2 separate regions of the Homo sapiens genome follow, and region 2 is linked to region 1. The links come from fine-mapping of genetic effects on gene expression. A gene starts in region 1. The other region holds a variant in brackets. All regions are shown on one strand. Distances are from middle to middle.

Region 1 (2,779 bases):
GACCCCTCAGAACTTCCCCTCCTTTCTCCCTGGAAAGGAGCTGGGGAACCTATAGTGCAAGTCTGTGGACCACTCAGTTATGGAGGGAGGCTGTGCCTGAAAGTGGACACTGCGGTATGCCCCTTCCACCACCTTGGCCTCCACTGCTGTCCTCAGTACAGCCGCTTCTCCTAAGAGTGCAGGCCATGGACGCCACCCTTGATCTGGGCCGACATGGTTTGCTTCTCAAAATTCAGTTCTCCTGAGTACATCATGGACTGAAGGACAGACAGGCTGCGGCCCAATATCCTGGCAGCCAGGCTGGATGCCCGCTATGAGGTAGGACACGAACTTATGAATGGATCCTTTGTCCTGGATGGAGCCCAAGACACCCTGCGCGATCTTCACCTTATTCCCCTTGCTGACGTATCATTTCTGGCTGCTGCTGCTCTTCTCCATGGCATCCAGTGAGCCCATGCCCTGGTACTTCTTGAGCCGCACCCCATCTGAGAAGAAATACTCGCCGGGGTCCTACGTGGTGGTGGCCAGCAGGGAGCCCATCATCACTGTGGAGGCTCCAAGGGCCAGGGCCTTAACCACGTGCCCCACGGTCTAGATGCCGCCATCGGCTATGATGGACACACCAAAGCACAGGGCATACTCGGCCACCTTGTACAATGCAGTGCCCTGGGGCCCACCGCAGGCCATCACTTCCTGGGTGATGCAGATGGAGCCGCAGCCCATACCTATGCGCAGCCCGTCCACCGCAGCGTCAATCAGGTTTTTGGCCTGGGCGGCTGTCATCCCAATCACCTGGAGGTGGGGGTACTTCTGTTTGATGTAATGCACCGTGGCAATCTGATACACCGAGTTCCCTTGGGACAAGTCCAAGACTACGACGTCTACCCCCGCCTGGGTGAGCAAGTCCAGGCGGTATTTGTCATCCTCAGGGGTGCCCACAGCTGCCCCACGCAGTAGCTGCTTGTGGGAATCCTTGGAGGCCAGAGGGTAGTCTCTGTTCTTCTTCAGGTCGGTGCAGGTGATCATGGCCACCAGCTCATCGGATCATTGACGAAAGACAGCTTCCCTTTCTTGCTATGCTGCAGGATCTCATTTGCCTCTTTCAACATCAGGCCTGCTGGAGCCAACACTGAGGAGGGTGGTGTGGTCCTCCTCAGCAAGAAAGTTGATGTCTCTGGAGGTGACGATGCCCACCAGCTTGCTGCCTATGGTGCCCGTCTCAGTGATGGGGATGCCAGAGAAGCCATGCCGCATCTTGGCCTCCAACACATCACCCACAGTGTGCGAGGGGGTCAGCACCACCGGGTCCGTGATGAAGCCCTGTTCAAACTTCTTGACCTTCCGCACCTCCTTGGCCTGGAACTCTGGGGTGCAGTTGTGGTGAATGAAACCAATACCTCCCATCAGAGCCATTGCAATGGCTATGTCGGCCTGTCACAGTGTCCGTGGGGGAGGAAATGAGCGGAGTCTTCAGCGTGATCTTCCGGGTCAGGGCTGAGGTCAGGTCCGCCTCATCAGCTATGAAGTCTGTGAATCCTGGGAGAATCAGGAAGTCGTCGTAGGTGAGGCAGTCGGCGCTGGCAAAGAGCTGCTGCGCGGGGAGCCAGTTATCGGGCACATAGTCGGTGCCGCCCCTGATCAGGTAGTCCGTCATGCTGCCGCGAAACCCTGCGACATCCGCGCGCAGCCGCCTGCTGCTGCTGCCCCCGCGCTGCGGCCATGCTGCCGCTGCGAGCCGGGCGGGGCCGCTTCTCTCTCTCTCTCTCTTTTTTTTTTTCTTTTTAAATAATTTTCTCTCTCAGAGTCTGTCTCTCAGGGTCCTCTTTTCCCAGTCCCTCTGGCCAGGAGTCTTCTAAGTTTTCCACACAGTTGCACAGTTCTGTGTTATTGGATATACCCGGGGGATGAAGTAATGAAAGAAAAGACTGAAAATAAAAATGGGAATTCCTTCCACAGTCTTTACACACAGAGGCCCCTAGAGGCCCATTTTCCTGGTTCCTCTGTCCAGAAAGATGGATTTCTAGGGCTTACATTCATGCTGCTGCCTCTACATGCACTGAAGCTGGTCAATGAAGCTGGCCTTGGGGCAGAGGGAGAGAAAAACACATTGGGATTTCACCTTCAACCTCCACTTTCCACCTCTCAGGGTCCCAGTTTCTTAGTACTCTGACAGAAAACCAGGGTTTTCTCAAAGTTTTTGCTGTCTGTTCCCATCACATTGTTCCCTGATTTGGCCCATCCTTAAGCCAAGACCAGATGATCTTGAAGGAAAATATCCTAGGAAACTCACTATTGGCATACTGGTCATTTTTTGAGTTTTGATGTCGCTCCTCAACCTCCTTGCTATTATTTTGTTTCGGAATCATCCTCAGGTAAGTGTTTTAGTATTTTGTCCTGAATTTTTAATTGTAATGAGTGAAAGAGAAAGATTCTAGCAGGCTTACTTCATCTTGGCTGGCACCTGAAGTCCATCCATAGGATATATTTTTAAATTGTTCATGTACTTGGCCACAAAGAAAGTCTCTAAGAGTTGGTAACACACAAAACATGTTCTCTGAAAACATTGCAATAAAATTAGTAAAGAATGCCAAAATGTGCTTTTCCGAATATTTTATAGCTTAAAGCAGAAATCAGATTGCAATTTATAAACTATTTAGATCTGAAAAACAAGAGAAGCACAACTGATAGACTACAACAAAAAGTATACTCACAGGAAAAATGTTAACCTTAAATGTCTGTACTAGGACAAAACAATTGGAAAATTATTAGCTAAATATTT
Region 2 (2,779 bases), 550 kb after region 1:
TCTGGAAAGTGAGGAGTGTCTCTGCCTGGCCGCCATCCCATCTAGGAAGTGAGGAGCGCCTCTTCCCGGCCGCCATCCCATCTAGGAAGTGAGGAGCCTCTCTGCCCAGCCGCCCATCGTCTGAGATGTGGGGAGCGCCTCTGCCCCGCCGCCCCGTCTGGGATGTGAGGAGCGCCTCTACCCCGCCGCGACCCCGTCTGGGAGGTGAGGAGCGTCTCTGCCCGGCGGCCCCGTCTGGGAAGTGAGGAGACCCTCCGCCCGGCAGCCGCCCCATCTGAGAAGTGAGGAGCCCCTCTGCCCAGCAGCCACCCTGTCTGGGAAGTGAGGAGCGTCTCTGCCCAGCAGCCACCCCGTCTGGGAGGGAGGTGGGGGGTCAGCCCCCCGCCCGGCCAGCCGCCCCGTCCGGGAGGTGAGGGGCGCCTCTGCCCGGCGGCCCCTACTGGGAAGTGAGGAGCCCCTCTGCCCGGCCAGCCGCCCCGTCTGGGAAGTGAGGAGCGTCTCCGCCCAGCAGCCACCCCGTCCGGGAGGGAGGTGGGGGGATCAGCCCCCCGCCCGGCCAGCCGCCCAGTCCGGGAGGGAGGTGGGGGGGTCAGCCCCCCGCCCGGCCAGCCGCCCCGTCCGGGAGGTGAGGGGTGCCTCTGCCCGGCCGCCCCTACTGGGAAGTGAGGAGCCCCTCTGCCCGGCCAGCCGCCCGGTCCGGGAGGGAGGTGGGGGGGTCAGCCCCCTGCCTGGCAAGCCGCCCCGTCTGGGAGGGAGGTGGGGGGATCAGCCCCCCGCCGGGCCAGCCACCCCGTCCGGGAGGTGAGGGGTGCCTCTGCCCGGCCGCCCCTACTGGGAAGTGAGGAGCCCCTCTGCCCGGCCAGCCGCCCCATCCGGGAGTGAGGTGGGGGGGTCAGCCCCCTGCCCGGCCAGCCGCCCCGTCCGGGAGGTGAGGGGCGCCTCTGCCCGGCCGCCCCTACTGGGAAGTGAGGAGCCCCTCTGCCCGGCCACCACCCCGTCTGGGAGGTGTACCCAACAGCTCATTGAGAACGGGCCATGATGACAATGGCGGTTTTGTGGAATAGAAAGCGGGGAAAGGTGGGGAAAAGATTGAGAAATCGGATGGTTGCCGTGTCTGTGTAGAAAGAGGTAGACATGGGAGACTTTTCATTTTGTTCTGTACTAAGAAAAATTCTTATCCTGTTGATCTGTGACCTTACCCCCAACCCCGTGCTCTCTGAAACATGTGCTGTGTCCACTCAGGGCTAAATGGATTAAGGGCGGTGCAAGATGTGCTTTGTTAAACAGATGCTTGAAGGCAGCATGCTCGTTGAGAGTCATCACCACTCCCTAATCTCAAGTAACCAGGGACACAAACACTG[T/C]GGAAGGCCGCAGGGTCCTCTGCCTAGGAAAACCAGAGACCTTTGTTCACTTGTTTATCTGCTGACCTTCCCTCCACTATTGTCCTATGACCCTGCCAAATCCCCCTCTGCGAGAAACACCCAAGAATGATCAATAAAAAAATAAAATAAAATAAAATAAAATAAAATAAATAAAGTTTCATGCGCATCCGTGTGAAGAGACCACCAAACAGGCTTTGTGTGAGCAGCATGGCTGTTTATTTCACCTGGGTGCAGGCGGGCTGAGTCCGAAAAGAGAGTCAGCCAAGGGAGATAAGGGTGGGGCTGTTTTATAGGATTTGGGTAGGTAAAGGAAAATTACAGTCAAAGGGGGTTTGTTCTCTGGCGGGCAGGAGTGGGGGCCGCAAGGTGCTCAGTGGGGGTGCTTTGAGCCAGGATGAGCCAGGAAAAGGAGTTTCACAAGGTAATGTCATCAGTTAAGGCAAGGACCGGCCATTTACACTTCTTTTGTGGTGGAATGTCATCATTAAGGTGGTGCAGGGCATATTCACTTCTTTTGTGATTCTTCAGTTACTTCAGGCCATCTGGGCATATACGTGCAGGTCACAGGGGATGCATGGCTTGGCTTGGGCTCAGAGGCCTGACACTCCTGCCTTCTTATATTAATAAGAAAAATAAAACAAAATAGTGTTGAAGTGTTGGGGCAGTGAAAATTTTTGGGGGGTGATATGGCGAGAGAATGGGTGATGTTTATCAGGGCTGCTTCAAGCGGGATTAGGGGCGGCGTGGGAACCTAGAGTGGGAGAGATTAAGCTGAAGGGAGGTCTTGTGGTAAGGGGTGATATTGTGGGGATGTTAGAAGAAACATTTGTCGTATAGAATGATTGGTGATGGCCTGGATACGGTTTTGGATGAATTGAGAAACTAAATGGAAGATACAAGGTCTGAATAAAAGAAGGAGAAAAATGGGTATTAAAGGACTAAGAATTGGGAGGACCCAGGACATCCAATTAGAGAGTGCCCAAGGGGGTTCAGCGTAATTACTTGCTTGGTTGGCAAGTTTTGGGGCTCTATCCTTGAGTTTTTTTATGTTGTCATACACCAGGCCAGATTGATTTAGGTAAAAACAACACTCCTCATTTATGAATATGCAGTCCTCCTTTTTCAGCAGTGAGTAAGTCAAGGCCTTGGCGGTTCTGGAGGACAACTGCAGCTAAAGAGTCAACTTGGGCCTGGAGGACTGATAAAGTTTGTGATATGTGTGTGATGCTAGCAGAGAAGTCATGAGACAGGCTACGGAAGGTCGTGACAGAGGTTGAAATGCCTGCTATTCCAGTACCGAGAGCAATAGTGGAGGCAGAAAGTCCTAAACCGACCATCAAGGGAATTAGTGGAATAACTCTTTTTTGTCGTGTCGGTGTCATGAGGGGAACAGGGAG

Alleles and levels. Alleles are on the strand shown, and positions count from the first base shown. SD is a standard deviation of normalised expression in the study named.
With allele T in place of C in region 2, the expression in lung of the gene that starts at base 1,550 in region 1 is higher (small effect, 0.17 SD a copy in GTEx).

Evidence for each region. PIP is the estimated chance that this variant, and not a neighbour inherited with it, causes the effect. A credible set is the group of variants that fine-mapping cannot tell apart.
Region 2: its variant is the best candidate, but not a certain one, in a credible set for the expression of CALCRL-AS1 in lung (GTEx, PIP 0.85).

The regions. Positions count from the first base shown.
Region 1 is chr2:187,001,724-187,004,502 of GRCh38, forward strand. It overlaps CALCRL-AS1 (CALCRL and TFPI antisense RNA 1), which reads left to right and starts at 1,550. Exons shown (of 6, transcript NR_187179.1): 1 at 1,550-1,642. It also overlaps the pseudogene IMPDH1P7.
Region 2 is chr2:187,556,402-187,559,180 of GRCh38, forward strand. No RefSeq gene overlaps it. Among named protein-coding and RNA genes, the nearest start is that of TFPI, 3.4 kb to the left of the region's middle. RefSeq lists enhancers at 1,076-1,660, 1,661-2,243. The variant T/C (reference allele first, on the strand shown) is at 1,362.